Linked DNA regions of Homo sapiens. The protein of the gene in region 1 interacts with the protein of each later gene in a pairwise test. Each region holds a gene or a part of one and is shown on either strand. Other genes may lie near its edges. The genes, in order: HEPH and GLRX3.

Region 1 (17,742 bases):
TTCAAATACACGAAGAGCTTAGGACAGTGGCAAATAGTAAAAGTTCAATAAATGTGGAATATTACTACAAAGTATTAGGGATGAAGGATAATGAATTTATTCCCTCAAAAAAATTAATACAAGGACTCTGACTCTGAAACTAGATGAATATTTTGTGTCAAAAAAGACAGAGTTGTTATTCCTACTATACTCTAATTCTTCTCAGAGAACTCAGAGATATTACAATCAACTTTGGAAAACTCCAAAGCTTTGGAGAGAAAAAAATGAGTCATGGTCACAAAATAGTTTTTCGTACATTCATTTATTCTTTAACAGATATTTGTGGAGCACTTGCTATTTTCTAAGATCAGGAAAGGTTAATCCTGTGGGATCTATGAGGGACAGAGTGGTGAGAAGAGTATTAGTTTACATTCTCATTATCGAGGTTCAAATCCTATCTTTTTCATTTACTAGTTATAGGACTTGGATAAGTCACTTGACCTCTCTGAGCCTCAGTTTTCTCATCTATAAAATAACTACACACATACTTACCTTCTAGAGTTTTTGTGAGAGTTGAGACAAAGTATGTAAATTTCTAGTATGGTCTGTGTCACAGAGTATTACATAAGTGAGAATTATTACCATTAATTCCTTGATTCTAAGGCTTACTTTCTTTTTTCACATTTTCACATATCTGAAATAAATATACAGTAGCTTCACCAAACTATAGAAGCATAGCTCCCACCCATACATCTTACAAACACTGTATATATTTCATTATTCTTTTTTAAAGTCAAACAGTTGTTATTAAATAAGTAAGCATTGTGGGTATGAGATTAGAAAACAGCAAATATGGAATTCTCTTTAGGACTCTAAAAATGTTACGGCAAACTCCAGATGAAATGCTGGCTTCTGACTCAACTAGCCTTCTTCCCAGGAAATCTGCCACTGAGTATGTACAGCTCGGAGCAATCAGGAGCTGGCTGCTACCACACCCTGGGAAAGGGGCCTCAAGAGGCTACTTCCTGACCTCAAGAGTGCTCCCATAACTTCCCCTCAAATACCACAAGAAATTAAACCTACATGTCACTGTCCAGAGGCTGGTTCGTGATGACATTTCTTCCCTTGGGAGCATAGTTCCACTGCACATCCCGGATGCCCAGGTAGTAGACTCGAGTGGCTCCATCAGTCAGTTGAGGCCACAAGGACTGCATGAACAGCAGAGCCCAGAGGAGGTGGCCTGACTCCATGGCCCACATTACTCTGGGAAACAGGCAAATAAAAACTGCTGGTGTAGAAGAAAGAGAACAAAGGGGCTTTCTACGTGTCCAGAAAACTGAAGAGGCAAGAGCCAGGTTGAGTGACTGAGAAAGCAAAACCCATTTAGCCCAGTTTCTTTAACTTACCTGATTCCTTTTAATTCAATAAGTTTTCAATGATTGGATTTTGAAGGGCATAGTTAAAAAGTCACCCGTGCTGCTAATCATGTATTACTAGTTCCTTCAGAAGAGAGATCTGGATCCAGTTTTTTCAATGGTGTAGCAGGAAGAATGTGCTCTGTCCCAAGAATCAGGAAACAGGCACCAGAAGCCTTATTGGGCCACTAACACTAATTCTCCCTTTGCCTCTCTTTTCCCATAGGCAAAAGGGGAACACTCATTGTTGTTGCCACTTCCTATCCTCTATAAATTGTACTTAACAACAAGTGAGAATTTACTAAAAAATATTTACTAGAATATTCATAAACCCAAAATAGAAACAGTCAAAATGTTCGTGAACACTATAATGAATGAATACATTGCATTTTATTCATAAAATGAAATTCTTTATAGCAATAATAATGAACAAACTACAACTACACACAACAATATGAATGATTATGACAAATGTAATGTTTAAAAAAATAGACACAAAAGAGTACATATTGTATGATTTCATTTAAATACAGTACAAAATCAGGCCAATGTAATCTATGCTGGTAGAAGTAAGGATAATGTTTGCCTTGAAGTAGGATTCTGTGACTGGGAAGGGAAGAGGAGGGCTTCTAAGTAATGCTCTGTTTTGTGATCTACATGCTGGTTGTAAAAGCGTGTTCAGTTTGTGAAAATACATTGAGCTATAAACACGATTTGTGCACTTTATGTGTATTATACTTCAAAAGTTAACAATGAACCAAAAATAAATGACAGTATGTGAGGGAAGTATTTTGAACTTCTCAGAAGAAATGTTGTCTGCTGATTCCCAAGGCTATTCATAAATTCATTTCATAGGTCTAATCCTGAGTCAGAATCAGACCCAAGATTCTAACCTCTCACTTCAATGCATAAGACAGGACGTTAGACTTCCTGGGACTAGGACGAAGCACTCAGTGATACCATACACAGTTACAGTCAAACACAGAAACACAGACAACATCACATAAATACATAAACTTGCACACACAGGTACATGTAGTCTTACCTAAAAGCAGAGATGCACACACTTCCATTTACACATAAAATCACTCTGTTATATAAAATCTTAGTCAACTTCAGAATAATAATAATAAAGCTATATTTATCGTATGTGCATGGTACATCTGTTCCAAATGTTTTACACAGATTAAATCATTTATTCCTCACAACCACCCTATGAAGTAGACACCATTATTATCCCCATATTACAATGGAGAAACTTCAGAAGAGAGGTGTAAAGCAGTTTGCCCAAGGCCATCTAGATAAAAATCGGTAGAGTTGGGATTTGAGCCCAGGAAGTGTGGCTCCAGCATAATCACCATGCTGTACTACCTTCCACAAAAATATACTTGCACACTCACATGTATATACACAGAGAACATACATATGCCTATAGCAACAGCCATATCTATGAAAAAACACATACATTCTGAAACAAGCAATTACATGCAGTTATAATCACTTTACAAACAGACATACATACTCATGTAGGCAGAGATATAACTAATAGATTATATTAATGATAATGATGATAATGGCTACTATTCACTGACAGATCATTACATAGTAGCACCATGTCCAGTGCTTTATATAAATTATTTCGCTAAATCTTCAACCCAAGCATATGAAATAGGCATTGTTAATAAAAAATTGAGAATCAAATATATGCACAGATTCACATATGGATAGAAAATCCCCAGATATTTACCCTTTTTAAGAAATAAACTTATAGACTACTTCACAAACTCTCAGTCCTCTCCATACGCAGCAGTGACCCAAGTGTTAATCCCTAGATTCCATATTATATTTGGCAGAAAGCTCTTGATGTAAGAGAGGATCTGTTTTGGGGTCCTTTTTTCCAAAACCTGGCTCTCCCACTGACCAGCTGTGTAGCCTTGGGGATTACTTAACCACTCAGAACCAGTTTTCTCATCTGTAAAATGGGTATAATAATATCAGCCCTGGAGAAATAAATCAGAAAGCTTACATGAAACGGACAAGTATAATCCATGTTTGGAACATAGTAGGCAGTAGTAACTACTGGTTGCCTTCCTCTTCCTTTTCCCTCCTGGCTGCAGTTTGTTAATTCATCTCTACAGTCTCACATCCATCATACTTTCTATATTCCTACTCCAAGGGTTAATTTGAATACTAACTGCTCCAGAAGGCCACCTTTAGCCTCTTCATATCACTGTCCTCTGCAGGGCTACTTACTGTCTATAGCACCCAATTAGATTAAGTCAGACTCTGTATTATTGTTACCTTTCCATCTCATGACCTGCCTCATGAACTGTCTTCATTTCCCAGATTGGACTACACACTCCTTGAGAGAGAATGTCATTTTTTAGAGGTCGCTGTGTATCTATTACGACATGGCGATGGAGGCCAAGTAGATGGGCAATAACAGCTATTGTTAAAGTGACATAAAGAAGCACAAGTATACATTTTTCCATCAGTTGGGTCTGGTTCAAGTTCTAATACTTGTTCAGGGTGAACTTAGGCAAGTTTCTTCACCTCATTTTTCCCATCTATAAAATAATTGACTATATAAAGCTGGACTATATAGTTCTTACCTTTTGAGGGAGTCACAGAAGTGTGATAATCTAAGTGCAGAACCATAAAAATGTGGTATGTAATGAGCTCTCAAAGAGTCCTTCCAGCTTTCACATGCTGCCAATACTTACATTCACTGATGAAACACAGGCGTACTCACATACACCTACACATAGCTCTATATATGGTCACACAAATAGTCATGCCTTGGAATCCTCAACAGGGAGGGAGTGTCCTCGGTTCATTCCAAGTCTGAATGCAACATGGACCCCTTTCAATCTTCTTTCTCAGAGAGGTGTCAACAAAGCAGTTGTGCCTTGAACTCATTTACCTAGACAGAAAACTGTCCCAGGCAAGAGCTCCACAACTGGAGAAACACATGATAAAACTGAAAATATTCCTGGGAGAGACTAGTACAGGCCATCAGCATACAGTGAACAAGCATTCAACAGTGGTGACTTATGATCCAAATGGCTTAAACAATAGAATCTGGGGAGTGGTGGGAAATGCCACCTAACATACCCCTAGCAGTTTCCAGATTACAATGTGTTTTTCATATCTGCCATCTTATATAATTCTCAAGATCTTGAGAGATAAGGAATACTTACTCGATTTTGCATCCAGGGCACAGGCTTTGGTATCAGGCTACCTAAGTGAATCTTGGCTCCATTTTTCCTAGCTGTATGACTTGGGAAACTTCTTCATTTATTTAGCCACAGTGTCTTTATTTTTCAAATGGTATTAATACTATTAGCTACCTCATAGAGTTTTGTGGGGATTAACTTAATTAAGATCTGTAAGTACTTTAAGGGCACATGTAAGTGATCAAAAGGTATTAGTGGCTATTACTATTGCAAGTAAGGAAATAGTTTGGAAATGAAACTTGCCAGGGCCATAAAGATTTTCCATTTTATGAATAGCAATAAATATGTGCACACTCATAAATTCCCATATATGGTAACACATTCTAAGCATACAGGAATATAAACATAGGTATGAAAATGCACACAGCCCAAGCTGAACTCTCTTCTTGGAAACAACATGGTATAATGTAAAGAACTAGAACTTTTGAGTCAGACAAACTTAGGTTTAAGTACTGTTTTACTCTATATCTAAATAAGATAAATTTTTGCAGCAGCTGGGACTTAGTAGGCACCTGATAAGTATTTTTCTTCCTTCTAATTATTGACATCCTTTCTATCCTCCTCAAATTTGAATTTGTCATTGTTATTGCTGCTGTTTAATTTGGTTTTATCATATACTAAAAGAGCAGAAAAAATGAAAAACCCATAAAATCCTTTATAACCACTTAGATGTTAGGCCAGGCACAGTGGCTCACGCCTGTAATGCCAGCACTTTGGGAGGCCGAGGTGGGTGGATCACCTGAGATCGGGAGTTCAAGACCAGCCTGACCAATATGGAGAAACCCTATCTCTATTAAAAATACAAAAAATTAGCTGGGCATGGTGGTGCATGCCTGTAATCCCAGCTACTCGGGAGGCTGAGGCAGGAGAATCGCTTGAACCTGGGAGGCGGAGGTTGTGGTGAGCCGAAATCGCACCATTGCACTCCAGCCTGGGCAACAAGAGTGAAACACGGGTCTCAAAAAATAAATAAATAAAATAAAATATAACCACTTAGATATTTCATGGTACAGTGGAAAGCGTTCAGGCACCAGAAAATAGTAAGTTCTAGCTCTGGATTCATCATTTATTGGTTATATAACCTTGAACAAGTCCCTAACTTCCTGAGCCTCAGTTTCCTCATGTCTTAAATGAGGATTGTCTCTACTTTGGGCCCCTCATTAGTTTGTAATAAAGGTCAAATAATATGAAAGATGTGAAAGCCCTGTGTAAGCTTTTCACTTGGGCAAGGATATTTTTTTTCTCAGCTAAGCCCATAGAGAAGAACCAGACTGATGAGGAAAAAGAACAGGAAGAAATAAAAGGAGAAATGAAATAAGTAAGTTGAGAAAGAATCCTGGAAAAAAGTAAAAAATACAAAATAAAAAGGAAGGCAGAAGGAATAGGCACTCAAAGGAAGGAAAAAAGAAAGAAAAATTCTAGGCTATTTGGATAGTTTAGTTAAGATATACTGAAACCTTGTGCCAACCTGGAGAGAAGATCAGCCAATATAAAGTTAAGCCTCCCTTACCTTTACCTTACCTTCCTGCCATCCCAGTGTCACCTGGGTCTGGTCCCTATTATTCATAACAATTTGCATTGCTGTGTTCCCTAGAATTTGCAAACTGTTCCTTTATTGCGACAATGCTCTTTTCTCTCCCTCCATCTCCCTTTCTCAGTTATACTACTTTGGGCTAGACAGGCTCATCCTAAACAAAGGATTACTCAACTGAATAAAGGAATGCTGAGCCATCTTTGGGGCCCTGTCTTCAATCTCTCAGCAGCCTTCCTAATAAACCCTCCATCAAAATTCACCTTTTGGTCCTCTGCTTTCTTAACTCTGTGATAGAAAACATACCGATTTGAAGTTAAAGACCTTGATTCAAATCCTATCTCTTGTCTGTGATAGCTATGTGACCTTTCAATAAATTATTTTAGCCTTAGTCATCTCATCCAAAAAATGGGATGATATTTTTTTCACAGGATTGTCTTGAGGCCCAAATAAAACCATGGATATTTGAGTCCCTAGCAAAAGGATTGCTTGTCATATAATAGATGCTGAGTAATGAAAAACTGAACGTGTTATAGATTCACACATGCATGAAACCTTTAGAAACCATCTTTTTCAATCACCCTCATTTGATGTATAAAAAACTGATACCAGAGAGGTGCAAGGATTTGCTCAAAGTCACGCAGCCAGTTGTTAAAAATAGCCAGAATTTGAACCAATGATTTCTAAAAGATTTTTGCTATGTAGAAACTAAGACTACTCAAATTCAGATGTTTAGCTTAGTTAAGCTATCATTTATTGGCTTACTCTGTGCCAATCTGGTCTCAAAATATGAAACCAAACATGGTTATTTTTAAGTAACTGAGTTCCCACTTACATAATCCTCAGATCCATCACCTCAATAAATTCCTCAACCTGTGAAACAGAAGATGAGCAAGCTATTTCGACAGGAAAATGAACTATTCTGTATGGCTCCAGGATTGGCCCTGAAACAGACAAGCCAGTGTAGTCCTGGCTATTTTGGCGAGAGGAACAAAAGGAGCCTATTGTCTCCTTTAACTTTCCTGCACATCAGCCAAACCTCCTCCAACTTTTTGGCCACTGACTTTTTCTCCTAGTGGCCAGGACTCCCTTAAACCCAGCTAAATAAACGTTTTTGCACAGGAAGGCAGGTGAGGTAGAGTTTGAAAAGAGAGAAAAGAAAGCTTACCTTTGCTAGAGAAAACTACTCCATATTCATGTCAGCGGCCCATTAATGCTGCACTGCAGACCCCAGCCTGAGTCCGCCAGCCATGTTCAGTCAGTATCTTGGTTACAGGGCCTTTCTCCTAAATTAAGTCCAGGATTCCAATTTGGCAGGGTTTACTGGGATGGGAGGATGAGGGAGGGGGAAGGGCTGGGTGCCCTCTTTTCCAGAAACAAAACTACTGGAATGTCCTGTTCCTCTGGGGCCTGGTTTGATACAAAACCCGGGATGGTTCTTTACCCATATCCGGGTGTTTTACAAATCCTGGTTAGGATCTCAGGAGGAATTACAAGGGGGTGGGTTGTACTTCTGTTATCAGGACTTGCTAATTGGTCTTTGCTGAGAGGAGAACACTGTCAGTGTGGCCAGCCAAAGCTCATGGGTAGATTTCAACAGCTCCATTTAAGAAATGAGGTAGAAATTGAAAGAGCCTCCATCTCACCACCTCTTCCCCTTCTTGCTCTGAAGCACAATTGTCAGCCCTGACTATTATTCTGAGGTCATGGCTGCTTAGTCATAAGTAAAAATAAAATTGGCAATAAAACAAAGGACTTTTTTTCTACATTCTAAGCCCTATGTTAACCATTTTACATGCATTCTCTTATTTAAGTCTCACAATTATCCTGTGAGATGAATACTCTAATTCTCTCTATTTTACAACTGAGGAAAATTCAGCTCTGAGAGGGAAGGTAACTTGTCCAAGGTCACACACTTAGGAAGTAAAAGAGAAGAGAGATTTGCTGGGTCTGTCTAAACTTTTAACCATGAAACCACCACACACAATGTGCTGCTTAGGGGAGAAACACAGTACTTTCAAGGGGGTAGAAGGGACTTCACAATTATTGAAAGCCTACTGGCCACCAGTCACTGGTGGATTTTTTTATATATACATTAACTTTGCCTCCGTCATTTCTAGCAGATTCTAGAGTGAAATTTTATATTAACTATATTTAACATTTTCCACCTGAGGAAACCAGATATAGCTAGAAGATAGCCTGGATTAACACAGGTCAACACCCTAAAAACTAAGACATGGAAGAATTGAAAATACTAAAAAGAAAAAAAAAACAAAATGTTCCCCCAACAATTCAGGGTAAAACTGGAGTCTGGATTTGTTTAAAGTCAAAGGTCATTCCCATTCCTGGTGGAAAGAGAGAAGAGTGAAAAGTCACTGTCCTGAGTCAAGTGACCAAGGTTCTCGCCCCACTTGCTCTAGGAGTAATCAGCTATGTGGATTTTGTGGATTTGGCCCACTCCCTTCTCTTCTCTGGGCCTCTTTCTATTTCTACAATGAGGGTCTTAAACTAGATATGGACCCTCCCAGCCCTGTAAATTTACACATCTAGAATTCCATGAAGAAAGTATAGTCTAGATATTAAACATAGAAGATAAAGAGGTTTCAAAGACACAAAGTATAGGGAAAGAATGAGTGGGGAGCAATTTGTGGCGACAGGTCTGAGAATACTATGCCTCTCTAAAAAGGACTGCATCTACCCAACAGACCCAGGTATAGGAAGGGGACAGGTATGATGGGGGTTCCACCACCTGATATTCTTACTTTGTGATGAGGAGATCTTGGCTAGGAGCAGACACTTTTCTCCAGGCAGGCTGGGCACATTTTCCTCTTCTGAATTTAAAGTGTCTGGAGCAGGGTCCAGGGAAGAGAACATTCAGAAGACTGAGGTGGTAGGGCAAAGTCTGGGTCATAAACCACTAGAGATTCTTAAGTGTGCTCAGACACTTAGGCGCTGCCCCATGGACTGCAACTCAGACCAAGGCAGGTGGAAGCACCAGTAGGAAGGAAGGAGGAGCCACCAGCCTCAACTCCCTTAGAAATGCTCAGTGGTCAAGGGAAGCTTAGCCAAGCCATGGCAGCCCCTAGAATTATCTGCCTCGCACACATGTGAACCTTGAAGCAAGAAAGGGGAAGTGGAGACAAAACTGATTAAGCTGAGATCCAAGTCCAAGCTCTAAGGCATTTATGACAGGGAGGGGAAGGGATAAGGCCTCTGCTCTGACTCATGAAAGACAACAAGAACAGGTCATAATAGACTTGAATCAACACAGTGAAGACTGCAGGAGGCCAGGTAGGCCAGGTTTCCAGGTTTGTATTATTCATTCACCAATTTCACTGAGAGTACAAACAGCACCCACCTTTTCTGCAAATCCGGGGTACATTTCTGGTTCCTTCTCCTGGAGGTCACTTGAAAAACATTTTAAAGTTGGTGTCTACAGACCAGAGGTTGGCAGATTTTTTCTATAAAGGGCTAGCTACTAAATCATTTATTTCCAGAGCATACAGTTTCTGTTTGCCATAACTACACAAATTTGTCTTTGTAGCTCTCAAGGTATATCATTGTGCCAATAAAAATTAATTTACAAAACAAGCAGCAGGCTAAATAGACTTTTTTTTCAATATAGACATTTGCAATATGGCATCACTGTTAAGAGCATGAAAACTGAAATCAGATATTCTGAACTGAAATCCCAACTCTGCCATTTCCTGATTCTATGATTAAAGTAATTTAATCCCCCTAAACCTCAGTTTTCAAATGGAGATAATAATATTACCTATTTTATAAGACTGTTATAAGAACTTAAATAAGGCTATACGTATTAACTATTTAGCACAATAACTGGAACATAGTAAAGGCAAAAATTAGAGTTATAATTTTTAATTTTTCAATTCTAAATAATTGTTGAAATCTAAATAATTATTTCCTCGTTAGGACACAAACTGTATTAACTTGTGTCAAAAAAGAAGAATGTTTCAAGAATCCTGGCTTCACATTCTAGTTATGCTACTAAAGAGCACACAGTGACCCTGGACAAGTCTTTTTGCCTTTCTATCACTCAGTTTCTTCACCTATAACATGAAAAAGGTGGTCTAGATTTGGGTTTCTCAAAATTAATTTTGGCAGCAGAACCCTTTCCCCAAACAGAATCTTAGTAAACACCCACTACTTATGGAAGATGAAAGTGATTTGTTCTAGGTAAGGCAGGGAAGGAGATAGAAATGGGCAAGGGTGAAGAGACAGAGGAACCTGTCCACTGGGTATGACTGGTTTCCTAGACAATGTGATTGTGTCTGGAGCACCAGTAAGAAATGTCTAGGACACTAAAAACAGATTGGAAAACCGTAAGACCAGAATATCCTTAAGGGTCCTTCATGTGTTAAACTCTGTCACTAGAACATCTTTTCGTTTATTCATTCAACCAATATTTCCAGGTTACTCATCTATGGGCCATCAATAACACATGGCCCTGGGGTGGCTACAAAGAGGAGAGGACCCCAGGGACCTTCACATTAGAGTCAACATGGTCTAGGGTGAGAAGCATGGCATTTGGAGTCAGAAAGACTAAGGATTGTATCTTGGCTGCCTTTTTCTGAGCTATGTGACCTCGGGCAAATCACTTAACTTTTTCGAGCCTCTGGTCCCTCATCTGCAGAACAGGAATAATAACACTTCCATGACTGAAATATTGTGAGGATTAAATCAGCTGGCATTTGTGTGAACCCTTAGCACAGTGCTCAGCATGTTCAGACCCCCAGTAAATGTTGTTTTCCTTCCTATATTTTCCACAGTTAAATTTTGTGACAGTATCAGGTACCAGGAGAAAATTAAAAGCCATGGGCAGTGCCTTGGCACAGACAGTCTAACCCCTTTACCTCAGGATCCTCTGATGAGCTTGCCCTTAGCAGTTTCTTAAAAAGAAGACCTCTGGGGAAAGGTGGAGGGGTGCAGGGAAGAGGGGGTTGTCCCCCAGAAACCACATCTCTGAAGCCACTCCCCACCACCACTTCTGACCAGCAGACTCTGTTATGCTTTGGAAAGGTTGCTCTGCATTGCTGTGATGTGTGACAGCCCTAGGCTTGCTCTGGGTACACTGTTTGGTTCTTGTACTCTGGCTCTTGAACTCCACTTGCTGCTTTCCCTAGTCCTCCAAGGCTGTAGGCCTCAAACTTGAACATGTACCAGAATCCCTTATAGGATTTGTTAAGGCATTGAGTTTTTGCTTCAGTAAGTCTTGGGTGAGGCCCAGGAACTTGCATTTCTGGCAAGTTCCCAGGGGATGCTGCTGCTGCTGGTTTGAGGACCACTGCTGGTTTGAGGACCACTGCTGTAAGGGATGCTTGCTCTGAAGCTCACCCCCCAACCTCCCACCACCACCAGCTTACTTGCATCTGCAGACTGATTCTTTAGCTCCAGACTCACCTGGTCTTTGAGTATTCACTCTTTGGCCCTAGGTCAAAAATATATTTTATTCAGCTTCCTGGTACCTCATTCATGTGGCGTCTCCCTGAGAGTCCTCCCAACACCTATTTCCCCACTCCCTTTGCCCAAGAATCTTTCTGCTTGCCTGGGTGAAGCTTCCTCTCCTCTCCCTGTGCAATTAACATGCTTTCCTCTCTGTTGCCTGCCTGGAGCAGCTCTATACATGGCATCAGCTGTTCCTCCCAACTCTTCTATACTTTCTCATTTGGCTTCCTGATGGTGGGCCCTGGGCATGGACAAACTTGGTTTGAATCTTAGCTCTGTCTCTCCCTAAAATGTATGATCTTGGGGAAGTCACTTGAGTGCTCTGAGCCTCCATTTTGTTATTTGTAAAATCAGGCTGTGAAAATAAAATGCAATGTCTGAAAAATGGCCCTGTGTAACACCTGTTACATAGTAAATGATCAGTAAATGTTAGTCTTTTTTTTTCTTCCTCTATTTTCCTCATACCTGCCTACTTCCAGCCACACTACTAAGGAGTACATAGCATGTAAGAAGGCTAAAACAATGTACAAATAAAATGTTTCATTACTATAAATAGACATAGTAAGTAAGAGAATAGAGGTCTCTACAATGTGATATAACATTTTAGAGTAGGGAGAGGATATTTTCAATGGGTGAATATCATTCAGAATAAGCCTCCTGAACGACTGCATGACATAATTAGCATTCTCATTCCTATATACCAAGCCAGAGACTTGAATGTCATCTGAGATTACTCTCTTCTCTCTCACTCTCTACAACCATTTCATTGATATGTCCTGTCATATTTATATTTTACATCTTTTTCTCAATGCACCCACTTCTCTCTATCTCCACCGCCATGGACTTGGTCTAAGTCACCATAATCTTTTAATTGGACCAGCGTAATAGCCTCCTTATAATTCTTTATGACTCCACTCTTGACCCCCCATAATCTGGTCTTCAAATAACAGTCAAAGCTATTTTTCCCATAACACAAAAGTGGTTGTAAATCCTTATTGCTTAAAATCCCCCAGCAATGCCTCCCTTATTGACTAAAGTTGGAATAATAATGATATTAGTAAGACTCTCTAGTAAGGATGACACTCAAACTGATGAAATATTTCGTATATGTGTGTGTGTGTGTGTGTGTGTGAATGCACATATGAAAATATTTTCAATATATGTCATTAAATAAAAAGCAAGGTGCAAAAGAGTGAGCATATTGTGATTGGTCATACATAGAGATATAGATATCTCCACACACACACACACACACACACACATATATACATACTTACATGAGGGGACAATGAATATTTCTTCTGGAAATAACACAAAATATTCTTAATGGTGGTTTTCCTTGGGGAGAGTAACTTGGTTGGGGGAAGCGTGACTTTCATTTTTCGTTTTGAACTGTTTAGATTTTCAAGCCTTATATATTAGTTACTTTTGTTTTTAAAAAAAGGTCACTTGGAAAGTGAATATGAAGCCACTTTTGTTGTCTTCTTTGTATTTCTATTCTCTCAAGAAACTCATATCTGTTACATTAAGAAAATTAATTCCTTATTATTTCACTAGGATAAAGATCAAACTTCTTAACATGGCCTATATGGCATTTTTATGGCCCAGCCCTTCCTAATCTTTCTAGGTCACTGCTTGCCCTTCCTCTCCTCACACTCAATGCGTCCCACCCATGCCAGAGGTCTGTCAGTTTGTCAGTTTCCAATGTGCATGGTGCTCTCTCTTCCCTCCAACAGATTCTGATATGTTGTTTCATCTGCCTCAATCACTTTTTCACCTATTCATTCACCCACTCATTTTTTGGGTCTCAGTTTAGAAGTCCCTTCCTCTAAGAGGTTTTCCCTGACTTTCTATGCTTCTGGGTGAGGTCCTCCTGTGATGTGCTCCCAAGTCACCCCGTACATCTAACAACAATTTGTTGAAATTGTTTGCTTAACTCTCTCCTCACCGTATAATGGAAGCTCTGTGGGGTCAGGGATTACATTTTTCTTGCTCCCTACTGTAGCCTCAATGCCTAGCACAGCACTTGATACAGAGTTGGTGCTCAATAAATATTTGCTGGATGAATGAATACATGAATGATTAGTGAAAGAATAAGACAGCAGCCTTAGAGCTGACCTTCAAGGTCAGCAAGATCCTACTAGAAAAAAAAGTGCGTGTTAACTTCACATTTCAGAAGATGACTTGAGGCTTTTCTAGTTAAAAGGTTGACTTGATTGTACCTGACAGTTCCATTGTTTGACCAAGTTTGTTTCTAAAAGGACTGTGTGTATGTCACTACCAACCCCTGTACTTTTCCAATCAATCCATCCACTGGCCCAGTCCTATTCCTCTAAGCACCTAACCCCCAAATTATCCTTGGTTACCTTGGGTTAGAAGAATAGTGAACAAAATGAAGCCTCAGAAGGCATGGTTGTCATTTGCTTTCAAATTATGTTGCCTCATAGGGCTCTTCAGAAGGCTTCATTTATCCATTTAATAGAATGGATACACATTAAATGGGTAAATGCAGCCACATAGCCTTTCATTTGAAGGAATAAATTTTGGTAAAATTAACTTGAAAACTCCCAAATATATCCACAGCATCATTTCCAAATGGCTATATGAACTCTTGCTTGGATACATGTAATAACTGAGAACTCACTCAATTATCTCTCAAGGCAACTCTAGATTATCTTTTCCCATATTAAATAGCCAAATATATGCTGCCTTCTACCTTCTGTTCATTGGTTCCTTTTTCTAGTGAATTTAGAACTCCTCAGCAAAAATGCCAGTTAGTGCCGTCTCGCCCTCCTCTCACAGCAAAAGAAGTAGCTGTCTTTTGGAGAGTGTTTTTTTTCCTTGGGCACCTACAATGCAGTTCTGACTTTCGAACCCCATTTTTCTTTGTTGTCATGCCCAATACTTTCTTCATCCCCACAGAACCGTGTTAGAAAATGCTTCTATGATGGCTGGCCTAATCACTGGTTGAAGGAAGTGATCATGTTCATGATATTATTTAAGGGACTAAAAAAATCCCATGCTTCCTCTCCAAAATGACAACTTAGTTTGATATAATTGGGCACAATAGTGAGGACTTCATTCCAGTCCTCTCTGCCACAAACCTATGTGTTACCTGGAGTAGGCTATTTCCCTTCTTTGGACTTCAGTCCTCTCACATGGAAAATAAGAGCCTTGTGTTAGCTGGCCTTTGAGGTCCCTTTCAGCTCTCATATTTCAAGGTTCTGTGACTCAGGCTTTTGGATTAGAACCCACAGACATCCAGAAGGCATGCATAAGTGTCTGATCACAACTTACAGACTCTGTGTTTGCATGAGAGACTCTATGGAAAGTTCACCATTATGAAAAAATGAATTGTGTGCAATTTCAAACCCTGACTCTGTTCATATACAGAACACCCAGACATTCTTAAAATACAACTGCTCTTCTAAGAAATGTGAACACAATAAAAGGTATATCCTAGGTAGTGGCAGTTGTGTCCCTTCTCAACCCTACTTTCCAAACCTATTGATCTTAGCCCTACTACTCCTCTGGCTACTTGTTAGTCTGTTAAGTGAAAAAGACAGTGGATTGAGGGTTGAGGTAGACAGAATAACGCCTCTCCCAAAAATGTTCATGTTCCAATCCCTGGAACATGTGAATGTGTTATATTACATAGCAAAGGGAAATTAACATTAATAATCAGCTGTTCTTAAAATGGAAAGAGTATCCTGGATTGTCTGGGTAGGTCCAGTATCATTACAAAGGTTATTTAAAGTAGAAGAGAGAAATAGGAGAGAAGGTTGGAGTAATGAAGTATGAGAAGTACTCAATTCACTGTTTCTAGCTTTGAAGATAGAGGAAGAGGGCCATGAAGTGGGGAATTTAGGTCTCTAGAAGCTAGAAAAGTCAAGTAAATAGATTGTCCCTGGATACTCCAGAAGTAACCACAGTGAGACCCATTTTAGACTTCTAACCTATTAAAACTATAAGATAAAAAATACATGCTGTTACATGGACACATGGGAGGGAAACAACACATACTGGGGCCTGTTGGAGGAGGTAGGGACGGGTAGGGGGAGGAAGAGCATCAGGAAGAATAGTCAATGGATTCTGGGCTTAATACCTAAGTGATTGGATGATCTGTGCAGCAGACCACCATGTACCAATGTAACAAACCTGCACATCCTGCATATGTACCCCTGAACTTAAAATAAAGTTGAAGAAAAAACCCAAATAAATAAACATATGTTATTTTAAGAAACCAGGTTTTTACTAATTTATTATAGTAGCAATAGGAAACTAACACAGGGGTCAACAGACCTAACTCTGAGTCCTGCTATTGACACACACTAGCTGCTTGTTATTGGACAGGATTTTTTTTAAAAAATCTCTCTACAATTTAGAGTCCTATAAAATGAGGATAAAACCATCTTGCTTGTTAACTTCACAGGTTGTCCTGAAGATCAACTAAAAGGGCCATATAAATGTAAAATGGAATAGTTCTGTACACAAAAACGTAAGTAAAGTGGAAAGATGAGCAATAAACAAGGAAAATTATTCACCACATATATAACAGATAATTACTATTCAGAATATATGTGAAAAAGATAACCCAGTGAAATTATAGTCAAAGGATAAGAATGAAAACAAAAACCAAAGTGGACAATCAAACATGGAAAGAAGCTCAAATCACTAGTAATCATAGAAATACAAATTGCAAATAAAAGTAGCAAAATCCATCGCCAATCCACTACATTGACGGGCATTTTTAAAACATTTTAGAAATTGACGAAGGCGTGTGAAAGTAAGTGAGGAAACAAGCCTCTCATACTCTAATGAGAACTATAAATTGGTAGAACTACTGTGGAAAGTAATGTGTTAGTATCTACTAAATATTTAAAATATATTTACTATGTATATTACAGAAATTCCTGCTCCTAATTATTCACTGAAATGGGCACAAATAGACAAGAATATTAATTGCAGCATTGTATGTAATAGAAATAAACCTCAGACAAACCATGTTACCACAATTCTACAAAATGCTATGTGACAGTTTAAAACAAGGCAAAAAATTTAAGATGGATTTATGGCTAAATACAGCAATTCATAGATTCATAGATGTGATAAAGGAAGCATAGTAAAATGTTAATGGTAGAATCTACGCAATATGTATATGGACATTCCCTGTAAGATTCTTTCAAGCTTGCTGTTTGTTGAAATTTTTCATAATAGAATAATAGGAAAAAATAATATGCTGATTAGATTAAAAAACAGCATCAACAACGAAAAACAATAAGTCAATTTTGTGTTACAAAGATATACATTTCAGACTGACTGGAGCAGGCACAAAATGATATACCACTTATGTTCAAAAATATGCTAATTAATATTGCATATTTTCTTTAGGTAAAACATATGTACGTGTACAACTATAAACATACATAATTGTACAGCTATGAAACAATACATAAAACTGCATAATTACACATTCCATTACACAAGATATGTCATTTATGTAAAACATACACAGAAGTACACACATACAAAGACACAAACTAGTAAAATCATGTAAAGAACCTAAGGGGTAGAAGAGAGTGTATGTATATACACTGTCTGTGTATCATTAAATCTGTAATGTTTTAATAGTTTACAAAACTAATGTTACCAGAAATTACTTTAAAAATAAAAACAAAACATTAATTCTAATTCGTGAACATGGAATATGAATATCTTTCCATTTATCTGTGCTTTTTTTTCTATTTCTTTCATCAGTGTTTTATAGTTCTCAGTTTTACACCTAAGTATTTAATGTTTTGTTTCTATTGTAAATGGGATTGCTTTCTTAATTTCCTTTTTGTATTGTTCATTATTACTATATAGAAACATTACTGCTTTTTGTATGCTGACTTTGTATTCTGCAACTTCACTGGATTCAGTTCTAATAGTGTTTTAGTAGAGTCTTTAGTGTTTTCTCTATATAAGATCGTGTCACCAGCAAATAGAGACAATCTGACTTCTTGTTTTCCTATTAAGGTGCATTTTACTTCTTTCTCTTGCCTAATTGCTCAGCTAGAACTTCTAGTACTATGTTAAAAAGAAGTGGTGAGAGTGAGCATCCTTGTCCTGTTCC
Region 2 (15,838 bases), on another chromosome or scaffold:
CGGATCACTTGAGGTCAGGAGTTTGAGACCCACCTGGCCAACATGCCGAAACCCCGTCTCTACTAAAAATACAAAAACTAGCCGGGCATGGTGGCACACGCCTGTAATCCCAGCTACTGTGGAGGCTGAGGCAGGAGAATCGCTTGAACCCAGGAGGCAGAGGTTGCAGTGAGCCGAGATCGCGCCACTGCACTCCAGCCTGGGGGACAAGAGCAAAACTCTGTCTCAAAAAAAAAAAAAAAAAAAACTAGAAATATGACTCTAACTTTCCCTGGCCTTTGTGTAGGAGTGTAACTGAGCAGCTTAACTTCAAAATGCATTTTTAGACTTTTTTTTCCTTTCTCTTTAGTCCTGAGATGCAACCTTAGAGCAAACTGCAGAAGCCTTTTCCCTTAATCTTAAAATAGACTCCATACCCCTCCCCTTTCTCACCGTATACTCTCTTCACATGTGTCTGTGAGCTAGTCTCTAATTACGTGCTTACTTCGAAGTTCTAGGGACTAATCTTGAGACAGACCAAGCGTGGAAACCCAGCTGCAAAATCCCAGAGCTTACCTCAAGGTGAGCAGTCAAATCTGGCCACTTGTTGAGATGACACCAGCCCGCACTCCAGGTGGACGGAGGCCCAGGACAGCCGCCGGAACAAGACACACATTGTACTCAGCACGATCCCTGCGCGCCTCCCAGCTCAAGCTCCTACTCCCCACTTCTTAAACCCTTGCCTTCTCTCCAGAATTCAAAGTAGTTACTTTGGGTGGGAATCCAGCCATATCCCCATGACTAGTTCTGGTTAATAGTCACTTTCTTTCTACCAGACCTTGCTCTTGTCAACTGGACTCTGTAACTGGCGAGCACCCGGATCTGAGGTCCACTACAGGAGCCGGCCACAAAGACATCCTCAACACTACTTTATCTGAAAATGGATCCCAGACCTTCATTCCAGAAGGGCCCTGCCCTGTACCTGGAAGGAAGAAAGCTACACACGGGGCAAGGCTTCCCCATCCAGTCTACGATTAGATCCTTCCCTTCTGTCCAATCACATTTCTGCACAGCCACCCACTCTTCGTTGAATCTGAGTGTGAACATGCAGTTTCTCTTGGGTTTTTATTTCTGAAGGCTCCTGTGTCACCTAAGTCTTTACATACATTTTATACTTTTCCTTGGTAATCTATTCTAGGTGTTGGCTGTGCCCCTTGTGATGGGTGAGGAAAGGCATCCTCCTTTCTGCCCCTACAGACAGGTGACAGGGCTCTCTGAGGGCATCCAAGCTCCTTCTGGCTTTTCTCCATTATATCGGGGCTCTTCCTTTTAAGCACAAAACATAATACAAGAGCATAAAAATCTATTTTAATTCTTTTAGAAATTACCACACATGCCTTCTTCCTAAATAGACAGCTCCCATATCCAGGTTACAAGCTTGGGCTCAACGACACGGCTAGGGGTTAAGGAACTCGCTCCTGGGGACAGCAGGCTGGGAGATGAGGGGCAGAGAAACCCTTACCTTACCACATGGCAGGCATCCCCCGGGCAACCCTGAACAAGGGCAGGCTCTCTCTCTAGGAGTTCATATGGAAATCTGTAACTTCCTCAAATAAAACTTGACTTTTTGAGAAAAGATGAACACTGTACCACTGACAACCATTTAGATGAATGACCGTGGGGAGAACAAGAAGGTCTTTTTCAGTCAGAATTTGCGGGTCCTGGCAATTAGGTTTTTTTGTTTTTTTTTTTTTTTCTGAGACAGGCTCTTATTTTGTCACCCAAGCTGGGGTGCAATGGCACGATCACTGCAGCCTTGACCTCCTGGGCTCAAGCAATCCTCCCATCTCAGCTCCCCAAGTAGCTGGGACTACAGGTGCACACCACCATGACCAGTTAATTTTTTATTTTTTGTAGATATGAGGTTTCGCCATGTTGCTCAGGCTGGTCTCAAGCTCCGGAGCTCAAGCAACCCGCCTGCCTCCGCCTCCCAAAGTGCTGGGATTACAAGCACGAGCCATTGTGCCCAGCCTGGCACTTAATTTGTGAAAGCCACACCATTTCTAACAGGAACATAAAAATACCAGGTCATTTCAGAAGCCCCAGACTTGGGCAACTCCACTCACTAACTTGCAGCGTGCTACCTCAAAGCCAGTGTGGCACGAGGCTTCAAGCACAGCACTGGGGCTGCGCTGACAGATCCTGGTTCAAATCCCAGCTCCCAGCCCTAGAACCTTACAGTGACCTAAGTGCACCAAGACTCCCTCAACGTGTTCTGCTGCAGCCAGTGAGTCAGTGCACGTGCCCGGCCCATGAGCTAACTGAACTCATGGCTTCTGAATCTGAATGTCTCTAAATATCAGACAAAGCTGTATGAAAAAAGCCCCCAAGACTCTGAAACCAGATGGGATGCCAGTTATAAAACTTGTCTTTAAAGTTACCCATCCTGGTGAATGAGGCATCAGGAAGCTACTGCAGCTTGTGTCTGATTCAGAAAGGTGGATACCTTTCCTCACCCATCACAAGGGGCACAGCCGACACTCCTATAACAAAAGAGATTAACAAGAGAAAAGCGTAAGATTTATTTAAGTCTTACGTGACACAGGAGCCTTCAGAAATGAAGACCCAAAGACTCAAGAGAAACTGTCCATATTTACGCTGATTCAACGATCAGTGGACGGCCGTGAGGAAATGTGACTAGACAAAAAGGGAAGGGTCTAGGTCCTCAAACTCAACATCTGAAATGTGTATAAAACAAGAATTCATCTGCAAATAATCAACTTACTTTTATTTAGAAAGGTTTGAATTTTGAAAAGTAGCAACTGTCAAATTTAAGAAAACTGATCTTAGGTCAGGCATGGTGGCTAGGGCCTGTAATCCCAACACTTTGGGAGGCTGAGGTGGGAGGATCACTTGAGCCCAGGAGATTGAGACCAGCCTGGGCAACATAGTGAGACTTCATCTCTACAAAAAAAAAAAATCAAAACACAGCCGGGCATGGTGGCACATGCCTGTCATCTCAGCTACTGAGGAGGCTGACGGGGGAGGATCTTGAGCCTGGGAGGTCAAGGATGCCGTGAGCCATGACTGCACCACTGCACTCCAGCCTGGGTGACAGAGGAGACCCTGTCTCAAAAAACAAAGGAAAAGAAAGCTGATTTTACTTTAAAAACTAAACCAGAAATCATGTTTCATATTGCAATCTTAAGCTTGTAACTTTTGACTGTCAAGATAGGTCTTATTTGTATAATTCTTTCCAATAAGGCAGATAATGATTACCAAGCGCTTAAAATGTATTACAGTTGTTTCAGAGATTAAACATTTTTAAGTTATTAAAATGAGGCTTTCTAATTATAAAAACATGCTATTTTTTAGTCTACTCCTCAGCAGACTTAAGACATTTTTGTAAAGAACGGAAATGGCAAATAACTTTTTTCCTTCCTTCTTAATGATCAATCCAGTGGGACCAAGGTGGACTTCCTGATGGTTCTGCAAGGCTCAGTGTTCAACAAAAAAAGGCAAAAACATGTAAGTCACACGTGGGCAAGGCAACTGAACCCACCAGGTCCTGTTATTTTATTAAGGAGCATTTACATTATGATAGCAAGTTTCAACACATTCATCAACAAGGCGGTCTTCAAATCAATCAGTCAACCCCCGGAGTTAGAAAGTAGAGTCATGAGGAAGAGCTGCTTGGCTGTAGGAAGTAGGGTTAATGCCCTCTAATCCCCGGAAAGGGGCAGACTGAAGCCAGAGCCAGAATCCTGGCAATTCACCAGTTTCTCATCACAGGTAAAAAGGCAACTGCATCCCACATAGCTCTGAGGGGGAGGCCTCCCGGGAGGGGCAAGCCTAAGGTTTGGGTGTCCCAGACCCTGGATGGAAGCCCCAGCTCCCAATCTGTAGCTGTGCCCTTGAGATAGCTGCTTTCTCCCCTCACCTGCAAAGGAGAATTCCACAAACTACCTAGCCTGTTTCACTGGTTTTTTTCTTTCCATTTTTGATCAAGAGTTTTTATTTTAAAAAAAAGTTCATTCCTGCAGGCTTATTTCCCCTAAACAGATAACAATTCCCTAAGAAGCCTTCCTACAAGGAAGGCACAAACACGCAAGTCAAGAGGAGTGAACAGCCCTGCCTGTATGAGGGCCTTTCTGGTTCCTATTCAACCAGCCTCTTCTAGAAAGGAAATTCTGACATTTGAGGTTTGGTTTCTAAGAGTTAACAGGCAAATAGATGGCAGCCCCCATCATCAAGAGCCTCCCCACAGCACCAGCTCTATCCTAAGCACCATGCAGCTTTAACCTGGCAGGATGCCACACAAAGCCCCACTACATACTCAAAAGAGCAGGCCAAGAAAGGGAGGGCAGGCAGAGCTGGCCACAGGCTCTGGCCAGGGTCCACGCTCCCAAAAACGCAGCAGTGCTTCTCGGAACAGAAATGTGTCCAGACATGAAAACCCTCCATACAAAGCCTGCCTGGAGGGTCCCTCCCACCACAAGCACCCAACGAGGCCTCACGTGTGGGACAACATCCAAATGACACATTGTCACCTTTCCTTGTGAACTGAACAGATTTCTCAAATTCAGAAAACAACTTTGTCTCTAGAATTTGGGGATCAGAGAGGATTTCAATTCTGATAAAACATTTCTACAAGAGCAGGCTCAATTATAAACCCATACGCAAACTCTCTTTTTGTTAGAAAATTCAATAGGGGAAGTTCAGCTGGGCTCAAGAATCTTACTTTACTTCCTAAAATACACTAATAAAATCAGATTAGGAATGGCCATCAATCCGTTTGCATGAACAAGATGTCTTGACCTTCCCCATGTCTGGCCAGAAACAACTAGAAAATAGAAATATGCTGCACTGTCACCCCAACTTACCTGGAGTCAGTGGAGCCAAAGACCATCAGACTTTAAGAGGATAAAATAATATAGGACACAGGGGCAACTCCCCAAAAACTCTCAACACTCATCCTGACTCAAACCAGGATGGCTCAACAAAGGATAACGTCACTGATATCTTATGTCCTGCAGGAGTCAACCAAAGGGAAAGGAGGTCTTCCTAAAATGCACTAACCACATGACATTATCAGAGCAACGGCCTCTGGCCAGAACAGTATTTCCCAAATTGGAGGCAGCCATTTATGTTAAAAGTTGTGCATTTTATTTATTTGTATGTGCATTAGAAAAAAACAGGCTTACTGAGTCTGTGATGCCAAAGATATTCTTGCTTAGGATAAAGTGAAAGTAAAAGTTGACTTAGAAAATATACTAGGACAGTTGGCACTTAGAGAAAAAGCAGTATGCAAATGAATTAAGTTTGAGATAAGTATACCAAAAAAGTATGGAGCCCTCCTCCATGACACACATCCCTGCGGCCAATGGCTTCATAAAATTTCAGTAAAAATTCTATTTCTATCTACATTTAAGAAGTTTTACTTATACAATGATTTTCATTTTAAATAGAAACAAGGAAGTTCTCATGGACCAATGCTATAAACAGCCTTATCTAATTACACAGAATGCCAAGAGACTCCACCATCATGGGTGTCCTAACACCTAGCAGGAAGCAAGGCCATGTCGAGCTTTATGACTTGTACAGACCACCCTCTGTAACACACAAATCAGCACTCTACTCTTTACACAATCAAAACAGAGAAAAACAGCCTGAGCTGAAGAGACAGCAGCAGTGTGGAGGTGGTGGGCTAATCTTACCTAGGAATAGATGCATTTCATCCTGTTTATTCTTGTCTGAATTACTGACTTCTGTTTCCCTTTCCTTATCGCCACCAGACAGTACCAGCATCTTAACTGCCCAAACAAACAGGGTGGGGTAATATATGAAGAGAATGTGCCACAAGTACAAAAAAAACTAAGAACCATGAGGTGAATTTAGCCATCCCATTTGAAGCCTGCACTGTGGAAGCCTAGTGGAGCAACTATTTTTCAAATATGTTAGATTCAGGATCAAAAATATTGTTAAAATTTTCATGGACTTCAAACTGTTCTCAATAGGAGGACCAAAGGAACCTGAACGACCAAATCAATGTTTATTATAAGTAAGTGGACCAAGTGTGGTGGTCCTACCTGTAAATTCCAGCACTTTGGGAGGCTGAGGCAGGAGACCTCATCTCTACAAGAAATAAAAAATTAGGTGGGCATGGTGGTGCACGCCTGTGGTCCCAGCTACTCAGAAGGCTGAGGCAGGAGGATCGCTTGGCCCCGAGAAGTCGAGGCTGCAATGAGCCATAATCGTGCCACTGCACTCCAGCCTGGGTGACAGAGCCAGACCCCGTCTGAAAAAAAAAAAAAAGTAGTGATGCTTACAACAAATGACAATACTTTTCCATTCTTTGTCATGACTACCCATTCTTCTAGACCTTATGAAAAAAGTGCTTGTTGTACCATATTCAATGAGAAATCATTTTCCTCTTAAATGTTTCTTGATAATTCACTACTGGTGCCTTGTGAAATGAGTCTCTAAACCTGCAGACATCCTACACTGCCTCTGCAATGTAACCAGTGCCGAGCTCAGCAATGACATCAGAAACTAATTTCCGTTGTTTTTCCTAAGCTGTAAAGAGATCTTTCACCAGCGAGGGGAGCCATTGTGTTGGCAAAGGAGTTGTCCTAAATACTGTTGTGTACTGCATTCCGCCACAGTTCTCCATTTTCTGAAGACTGCCTTTCTTAACTGCTAGAAGATACTCATGTACTAAGAAAAAGAGATTTAAGGTGGGTTAATTATAGTAGCTGTATGTTTAATACTGCTGTAAAGATACACTTTTTTCATACAATTATTGTTAATAATTTGAAGATGTTTATTGCATTCTATTTTTGGTGGGAAAAAAATGTAACATACATTTATTTAGCACGACATTGTGAAATACACAAAACATGTAACTGAGAAAGCAGGAATTTTCTATTCCTAGTCCATTTCTGAGGACTAAATCATGAACTGCTCCCAATGTAATTAAATATTTCTTACAATAGTTGGGCACCAAGTTTAAGATTTATTAATTTTCTCCTCTCAGTATAGGCAGCAATTCACCATTTTCTTTCAGTTCCTAAAAATAAAAAACAACAATAATAATATGTATATGCATATATAAAAAGATGGAAACATCTAAACAATCACAGCTTGTATGTATATCTGAGAACCAAAAGAAACACCTATTGGATTAAAACTCCAGTCTCTTAACACTCTCAAACTAAATGAGCCATAAACCCTGAATACACTATCAGGTTAAAAAATTTAACAAGGTATTCTTGGCCAGGTGTGGTGGCTCACAAATGTAATCCCAGCACTTTGGGAGGCCGAGGTGGGCAGATCACTTGAGGCCAGGAGTTCAAGACCAGCCTGACCAACATGGTGAAATCTGTCTCTTAAAAAATAAATAAATAAGGCTGGGTGCAGTGGCTCATGCCTGTAATCCCAGCACGTTGGGAGGCCGAGGAGGGCAGATCACCTGAGGTCAGGAGTTGCAGAACAGCCTGGCCAACATGGTGAAACCCCGTCTCTACTAAAAATACAAAAATCAGTTGGGCATGGTGGCGGGCACCTGTAATCCCAGCTACTCAGGAGGCTGAGACAGGGAGAATCTCCTGAACCCGGGAGGTGGAGATTGTAGTGAGCCAAGATCGTGCCATTGCACTCCAGCCTGGGCTAGAGCGAGACTCCATCTCATTCATTCATTCATAAATAAATAAATGAAGTTAAGGTATCCTAAAACCAACAGATTGTTTAGTATTAGGAAACGCAGCAACTGGAGCCAATGAAGCCCCTATTTAAACTGTAGCAATAAATAAGGAAAATAAATCAAGTGACTTTCAAGGTTGAAGAATGAAGTAATGTGGCTGGGCGCAGTGGCTCACACCTATAATCCCAGCACTTTAAGAGGCCAAGGGGGCAGATCACTTGAAGTCAGGAGTTCAAGCCCAGCCTGGCCAACATGACAAAACCCATCTCTATTAAAAAAAAAATTAGCCAGGTGGGCATGGTGGCATGTGCCTGTAATTCTAGCTACTTAGGAGGCTGAGGCATGAAAATTGCTTGAACCCAGAAGGTGGAGGGTGCAGTGACCCAAGAGCCAAGATTGCACCACTGCACTCCAGCCTGGGTGACAGAGTGAGACTCTGTCTCGAAAAAAAGGAAGAAAAAAAAAGCAGTGTGACGTTAAAAGTCTACTCAAATATGATGCTTGTTCCCCTCCCGTTCTTCCACTCACAGAGAGGAATCAGGCTTTGCTATTGAAACCCAACCTGGCAACACATCTCTGCCTCAGGAAAAGCTAGAGTACCAGTAAGAGGGAAAGGCAGAAACCATTAAAAAGACCTAACAATTCAGAAACAGACATGGCATCAAAAGAGCTACCACCAGGTTGACTGGAACTGCAGTACAGGCGCCATGCTCCTTGTGCCTGTTTTTCAGATTTAAAATCTGGATTATAGACACCAAGCTTGAAAGGACAGACATGATAAATAAGATTTTCTGGTTTAAAGAAACATTTAGTATGATATAACATTTCAGGTTATCACTGAACAGCATAAACATCAATCAATAAAACCATTAAAATCCGTATGACCTCCTCTGGATGAAATTCAAATAGGAATGATGCTGTCACACAAAACCCAGACGGCTTTCAGTCATGTCTAGGGATCTTCTTCTACCTACTCAACAAGCAGACACCCTGCCCCTCCAAGGGACCCAGCAGGACTTTTCTGAGCACACACTCAAGAAGGCACGGAGAGGACCACGCAGCTGAGTGGGCAAGGGCAGGTGGCCCTCAGGTGGAATCTGGACTCAATGGCTTACTAGTTATGGGATGGTGGACAATTCACCTGACCTCTCTATGTCTCTGTTTCCTCATCTACTGACTAAGAAGAATTCTGCTCTCTGAGGCTGCTTGGGAGATTACGTGAAGCAGCCTCTTAAAGCACCAAAGCAGTGTGCCTGGAACATTGGGAGCGCGCCAAATAAGGCAGTCCTCGCCACCCTCACTGCTGTTAATGCGAGCCGGCAGGTGGAAAGTCTAAACCTAACCAAATCTTCTATCTCTCTCAACAAACTGTCTTAAGTCCAAACATTCTGGAACAGCAGTAGTGAACCGTTTACTCTTCAGAGGCAATAACAACTCACAATTTTCTCAGGACACTAGATTAGCTGAGTAACTAAATCATCATTCAGTCCCTCATTCAACAAAACAAACGCTCATTGCTCCAAAGAGGCCAGCCAGATTAGACCATTTCAAACATCTTTTAATTGAACTGAACATGAAGAACTGCATTCTGCAAGAAACAGATCAAAATGGGATCGTAAGATCTATTCCATATATCTTCTCAAGGAAAAACGTTAACAATATCACACATTTCAAACGTATATGTTCTTAGCAGGTGAACATAAAAAATCATATAACACTCTGTTATATAACTAAAAAGAAGTTACCCACGCAGCTTAGCTTTAGAATTAAATGAGATTTATTGATTGTATCTTCCCAAGAGTTACCAATGGCTAAGGTACAGGCTATAAAACATTCAGACAAGAACAGGCTCAAGAGTATTTGGGGTTTGAGTATTCTTTGTGTCTTACAAAAATAAGACTATATATATATATATAGAGAGAGAGAGAGAGAGAAAGAGGGAGGGAGGGAGGGAGGGAAGGAGGGAGGGAGGGAAGAAACAAATGCAGATCTGTTTCTGCTGCTTCAGGGCTATTCAAGAGCAATAGTCTTAAAAATTTTTTCCTCCAGGAGTGAGACCATTCCCCAGGAAAAATGTCTCACTGGCTTGTTTAAGAAGTATGATATCAAACCTGGAACTCCACAGGAAACAAAACCTACACAGAGGCCACCAAAGGACAAAAAGAGCCTCTGCATCAATGGAACTCAAGCTTTGTTTTTATAAAACATATTGGTCCAAAGTGCTGATGTCATTTCAGTGGTAGGCTAGTGCTTCACTTTACAAAAGCACGTGTTAAAAACTTTTATTTTGGCCAGGCGCGGTGACTCATGCCTGTAATCCCAGCACTTTGGGAGGCCAAGGTGGGCGGATCACCTGGGGTCAGCAGTTCAAGACCAGCCTGGCCAACATGGTGAAACCCCATCTCTACTAAAAATACAAAAATTAGTGGGGCGTGGTGGCGGGTGCCTGTAATCCCAGCTACTCAGGAGGCTGAGGCAGGAGAATCACATGAACCTGGGAGGCAGAGGCTGCAGTGAGCCGAGATTGCACCATTGCACTCCAGTGGGGAACAAGAGCGAAACTCTCTCAAAAAAAAATGTAAAAAAAAAAAAAAAACTTTTATTTTACAACATAACTAGAAGTAGTACTACTTGCTATTTGTTTTCCACATAAAAAGTCGAAGATCTGACCTCAGAAAATTCTCTCATGGATTGAGGCAAGAGGAAGGCCTGAGGGCAGTCAGCAACCCACTTTTCGGGGCAGTTTTGTTCATGCCCCTGAGCAGACCCTGGCATTCCTGCCCAGCATTCCTGTCTAGCTCCTCTCTATACCCAACCAGCTACCACCCTCCTCGATGCCACCATGCCCACAGTGGGCCTGGGGTGCAGTGGGGTCTGTGTGTAGATATTAAAGCTACAGCTTCTGTTTATTGTTTTGGGCTAATCAAAGAGCTACAGAGCACACAGGTGTTAGTTGGTGGGCCTGCCCTGAATTCTAGACATTAAATACATGCAAAGTAACGTCCATTTAAAACTCAATCAAGAAGTAAAGTCACTTATCCATCCAACAACCATTTACTGAACTCCTAAAATACACAAAGCATCAGGAAGGACTCAAGATACATAAGAAATGGTGTCTTATCTAAAACACAATCTAACAGATAACAGATTTCCAAGCATCTCAAAACCAAAAAGGACCTACATTTTTTCTTTCGGGGGACCAGGGGCAGTGATCCTCAGCCTCTGTGGCAAGGATGGGCAGCACCGGGCCACAGGCCTCACACTGCTGTCACTCCATGCACCCAAGGGCAGATGAGTAAGGCAAGAAAAAACAATTTGTTGTCTGGGAGCTGAAGCAGGATCTAACAAGGACCCTGAGTGACAGGGAAGATCACCCCACAGAAAGGAGATGCAATGGTTAGCTCAGGTGTGAAAGTAAGAACAGGCTGCCACGTGGGGACAGTGAGAATGGCAGGGTAGTCATGCACACAGAAACGGTGATACTGGTCTAGAAATGTCTGAGAGTCAGGCTGGAAACAGGAGTCAAAAACAACTCTCAAGTTTCCATTCAATATGAAATCATTTTTAAACATACCAAAATCTTTTCCGTTCTTTAGAACAGCAGAAGAACTGGCCTTACCTTCACAATATCCAATCCTCCCACCAGCTCCCCTTTCACATACAGCTGAGGGTATGTTGGCCAATTTGAGTAAGCTTTTAATCCTTGCCGAACCTAAAGAAACAACAGGAATCCTGAAACCATCCTATCAGGCCCTTAAGATTAAAGCTAAGACAAGGGTGAAACATCAAACACAGAACTTACTTCTTCATCCTCCAATATATCGAATGTTTCATATTCAACACTGCAAAAAAGAGAAGACATTTTAACTGGAAATACAGTTAAATCAAAGTGTAAAACCTCTATGCATTTGATGTTTTTAAAATAATCAAGAAAACCGTTTCACTGCTAACAAAATGTACTACAGACCAATGGAAATGATTTTACTTCTTAATCTGTCTGGTACTACACAGAATTAGTCATTCCAACATATGACTTTATCTGGATTTTTCTCCGGACAATATTGGGTTAGACCAGGGGTGGGCAAACTTCTTCTTAAAGAGTCAGACACTAAACACTTCAGGCTTTACAGGCCAGACAGTCTCTGCTGCAACTGCTCAGTTCTGCTCTCTGCTGCAACTGTCAGCATAAAAGCAGCCACAGACAATGTATAAATGAAGGGATGTGGCTATGTGCCAATATAACTTTATTTACAAAAATGGGCAGCCAGCTGCAACTTGCCAACCCCTGGATCAGACCCACACCCCCATCTGCACGAGCCTTCATTAACTGAACACTCTTACCCACTTCTAATGTCTAACCCACCCCAGGCTGCTGCTTCTTAACCTCCTGGAAGCTGCCCGTGCAGCAGGATGTAGTAGTGCTCGTGGACGGAGGCTGGAGGGCTCAGCAGCCGGATAACAACCACGCTGCCAGCTCCCTCCACCTTAGCAAGAGACATGCTTTCCACACTTAAACTTATTTCAGAGAGGGTGCTGTTTTTAATGTACAAAAGGCCAATGAAAGCTTTGTGGCTTTATACCATACAATGAACATTACTTGTACAAAAAATGAAAAATCACTGCATGAATATCCAACTGTATCCACTCAGAGCGATTTCACCGTTAGGTGGTCAGGTATTAGCAAGCATGTATGCCTAAATCCTTGCAGGGTGCCTGAGGGTACAGGTGCAATTCCCAAAGGTGGCCAAAGAAAATGCTACATGTAAAAAAAACTGGACTTTCCATAAAACTGAAACCATCATAGGGAAATCTTGTTTATTTAGTAAACAAGTTCCCAAGGAAACTGTCTATGGTACAGGGAACAGTCAAAAAAACTAAATGACGGGATAAATCAGAAGCAATTACCAAAAAAGGAATGTTTGAAAGAAGAACAAAAAAAGACCCCAATGTAAACCTAATGCTTTTTAAAAACCCCAATGTAAGTCTTTGTTCAAGTTGAACTAAAGGTGGCAGATCTCTTAATACTGTGATAAAAACAATGAGTTATACAACTATTCATAAAGGATCCAGGAAGCACTGGGCCCAAGTGTATGTATGTGGAGTCCTAACAGCCAGTATACTTCCTAAAAGTTATTCATAAAGGGTACCTTTCAAACCTCAATATACACTTGGTTCTCAACCACTCATGCATGTGTATTTTGGCTACTAAAGGAAAAGATAAGAAATGAGAAAAAGTAAAAAGGAGTTTTCTCCACATACATTTGGCGCCCAGCAAGAGCATGGTCTGCTCGTGTTAAGCGAAGCTGAGGTCCTGGATGGCCTCACTCATCCTAGGGCCAATCACGCTTAGCAAGTCCAGAGCTGGGAGGTCATGCTCTCCCAAAGCATCCTCCTGCTCTCTGCGACAACAGGGTGCTTTCAATACAATGGAGATTAGACAGATATGGGACAGAAAGCCAAGTTACCAAGATGTTCCACCAAAGACACGAGCTGAGTCAGGCCCAGTGTGTCGGCTCAGAAGACACCTGAGGAACCTGGTACTGCTAGAGAGGGATGGACTGTGTGTGTCTCACTGTGGACCCGCAGCAGAGGGTCGACAAAGAAAGGGGAAAATCAAAAATGACCAAAAACAAGCCAGCCCCCACTGTATGGCCCAGGGCAGGGGTGAAGAAAGGAACAGGCTTGAAGTTACAATTACAATAAACTGACTATACTTGCTTCTATAAAATGTCATAGTAATCTAAAGACGACAACCACATCTTTTTTTTGAGACAGAGTCTCACTGTCACCCAGGTTGGAGTGCAGTGGCGTGGTTTCAGCTCACTGAAACCTCCACCTCCTGGGCTCAAGTGATTCTCCAGGCCTCAGCCTCCTGAGTGGCTGGGATTATAGGCGTGCGCCACCGCACCCGGCTAATTTTTGTATTTTTAGTAGAGGCGGGGTTTCACCATGTTCGCCAAGCTGGTCTCGAACTCCTGACCTCAAGTGATCCACTCACCTCAGCCTCCCAAAGTGCTGGGATTACAGGTGTGAGCCACTGTGCCTGGCCCTATATTCTTTTTATGTCCCTGAAATTGTATTCAACCTGTACTATTTAACTATTTTCAATAGATCTTTGAAGTATATCAAAGATTACTTGAAAGTAATTTATTTGAAGCTACAGTTAGAATACATGATTTTTAAAAGATACAATCATGAAATGAGAAATAAACAAAAATATCTGACAAACCCTATAGAACATGTGCTGTATATCTCCAAATAAGTGCTTTTGTTTTTAACCACAAAAATCAATGGCAATGTTCTTACCTGACAGCTTCACCACTGAGCACATCAAAACTAGGAGCACTGCAATTTAACTTGTGCTACCTCTCAGATCCAGGTAATGGACCTTAATATGTGCCCCTCAGCTTTCTGTACTGTTTAGCAACTAGGATATTTGAGAAAAATTAAAAACTACCTATAATATATTCCCCTGAAATATCTTTATGCATGGTGAGGACTCAGTTATACATTTTCCTCTGGGAAAGTAGACAAATAGTTATTCCAAAGGTGGCCTAAAGACCTCCTTTATGTTACTAATAGGTTGACACTGGCCAGAAAATACTATTTTGATCTAAGTTAAGGCATTCACAAAACAATACAGCAAAAAATAAAGAAAGATACAGATATGTATGGATATAGACATTACAACTGAAAAGTATCAGTGGCAGAACTGAAAAGTTGAAATATTTTTTTCTTTTTTTTGAGACAGGGTCTTGCTCTGTCACCCAGGCTGAGTGCAGTGGTGCAATCACGGCTCACTACAGCCTCACCTTCCAAGACTCCAGTGATCCTCCCACCTCAGTCTCTCAAGTAGCTAGGACCATAGATGTATGTGACCATGCCTGGCTAATTTTTTTATTTTTTGTGGCGATGGGGTCTCACTATGTTGTCCAGGCTGGTCTCGAACACCTGGGCTCAAGCAATATTCCTGTCTTAGCCTCCCAAAGTGCTAGGATTATAGACGTGAGCCACTACGCCTGGCCAGGTTGGAATTTTTTTAATACACCATTTGAAAACAACATTTACATACCCAGTACTATTTAGTATTTCCAGAATTTGTTTGCTGAATCCACATTTTGCTTCCTAAATGAAAAAAAATTTGCAAAGATTACAATTTTTGTATGACCCAAGCAGCATGGTTGTACCTAATACTCTTGTCAACCAGCACAGCACTTGTCCAGCATAGCTGCCACTACTTTCACTCAGCTCCCAGAGCTTCTGCTCATCCCCTCTTCAAGTACGAACCCATCTACACATCAACCCAGGCACACGTGACCCACAGACTTCCTTTTCCTTTGGTTTGTAACCACTTGAGATGACATGTGTTCCAACAGTTTATATTCTCTGTGGTCAAAAAGTTCCTCTAAGTGAAACCGAGATTTTCTACAGAGATTTGAGTTCATTGTTTAATTCACTCATGCAAAATGATCTTAACTCACTTAGCCTTTTTGCAATGATTATGACAATTATTTTCCCATTTCCAACTGGATTCTGACTCCCATTTTTCTTTTTATTTTATTTATTTATTTATTTATTTATTTATTTTTTGAGACAGAGTCTCACTCTGTCCCCAGGCTGGAGTGTGATCTCGGCTCACTGCAATGTCCACCTCCCAGGTTCAAGCGATTCTCCTGCCTCAGCCTCCCGAGTAGCTGGGACTATAGGCATGCGCCACCACGCCCAGCAAACTTTTTGTATTTTTAGTAAAGATGGGGTTTCACCATGTTAGCCAGGATGGTCTCGATCTCTTGACCTCGGACCTGCCTTGGCCTCCCAAAGTGCTGGGATTACAGGCATGAGCTACCGCATCCAGCCTCATTTATTTTTACATTACAGAATACTAACACTTTTTTGAGTTTATGAAAATCTTAAGCTTTTTTCATGCCACAGGACTCCAAATTCCAGCAATCTTGTGGAAAAGATATGGTACCATGTCAACATTTTAATAGCCCCAATAACATTGTTTCCAAAATGTATTAATACTTTCTAGGTTTCCAGAAAAAAATAGTTTTGAGAATAAATATCCACTTAAACCATTACCGAGAATAAGAAAAAATGTCACTTTATCATTACTAGGAATTATTAACTTCCTCTATTGTTTCAATACACTGAACC

What was found.
Region 2: the proteins of HEPH (region 1) and GLRX3 interact in binary tests that used the Homo sapiens proteins (3 or more experiments, as listed by UniProt).

What each region holds. Positions count from the first base shown.
Region 1 is NC_000023.11:66,154,058-66,171,799, reverse strand, and holds the start of HEPH (hephaestin isoform a precursor), read right to left. Parts: upstream 7,554-17,742; 5' UTR 7,330-7,553; intron 4,051-7,329; exon of another isoform or gene 4,007-4,050; intron 1,268-4,006; coding exon of another isoform or gene 1,230-1,267; coding exon 1,063-1,229; intron 674-1,062; exon of another isoform or gene 532-673; intron 372-531; exon of another isoform or gene 296-371; intron 1-295. UniProt on the Homo sapiens protein: Plasma membrane ferroxidase that mediates the extracellular conversion of ferrous/Fe(2+) iron into its ferric/Fe(3+) form.
Region 2 is NC_000010.11:130,170,552-130,186,389, reverse strand, and holds the end of GLRX3 (glutaredoxin-3), read right to left. Parts: intron 14,807-15,838; coding exon 14,754-14,806; intron 11,524-14,753; coding exon 11,484-11,523; intron 11,394-11,483; coding exon 11,301-11,393; intron 7,049-11,300; coding exon 6,998-7,048; 3' UTR 6,718-6,997; downstream 1-6,717. UniProt on the Homo sapiens protein: Together with BOLA2, acts as a cytosolic iron-sulfur (Fe-S) cluster assembly factor that facilitates [2Fe-2S] cluster insertion into a subset of cytosolic proteins.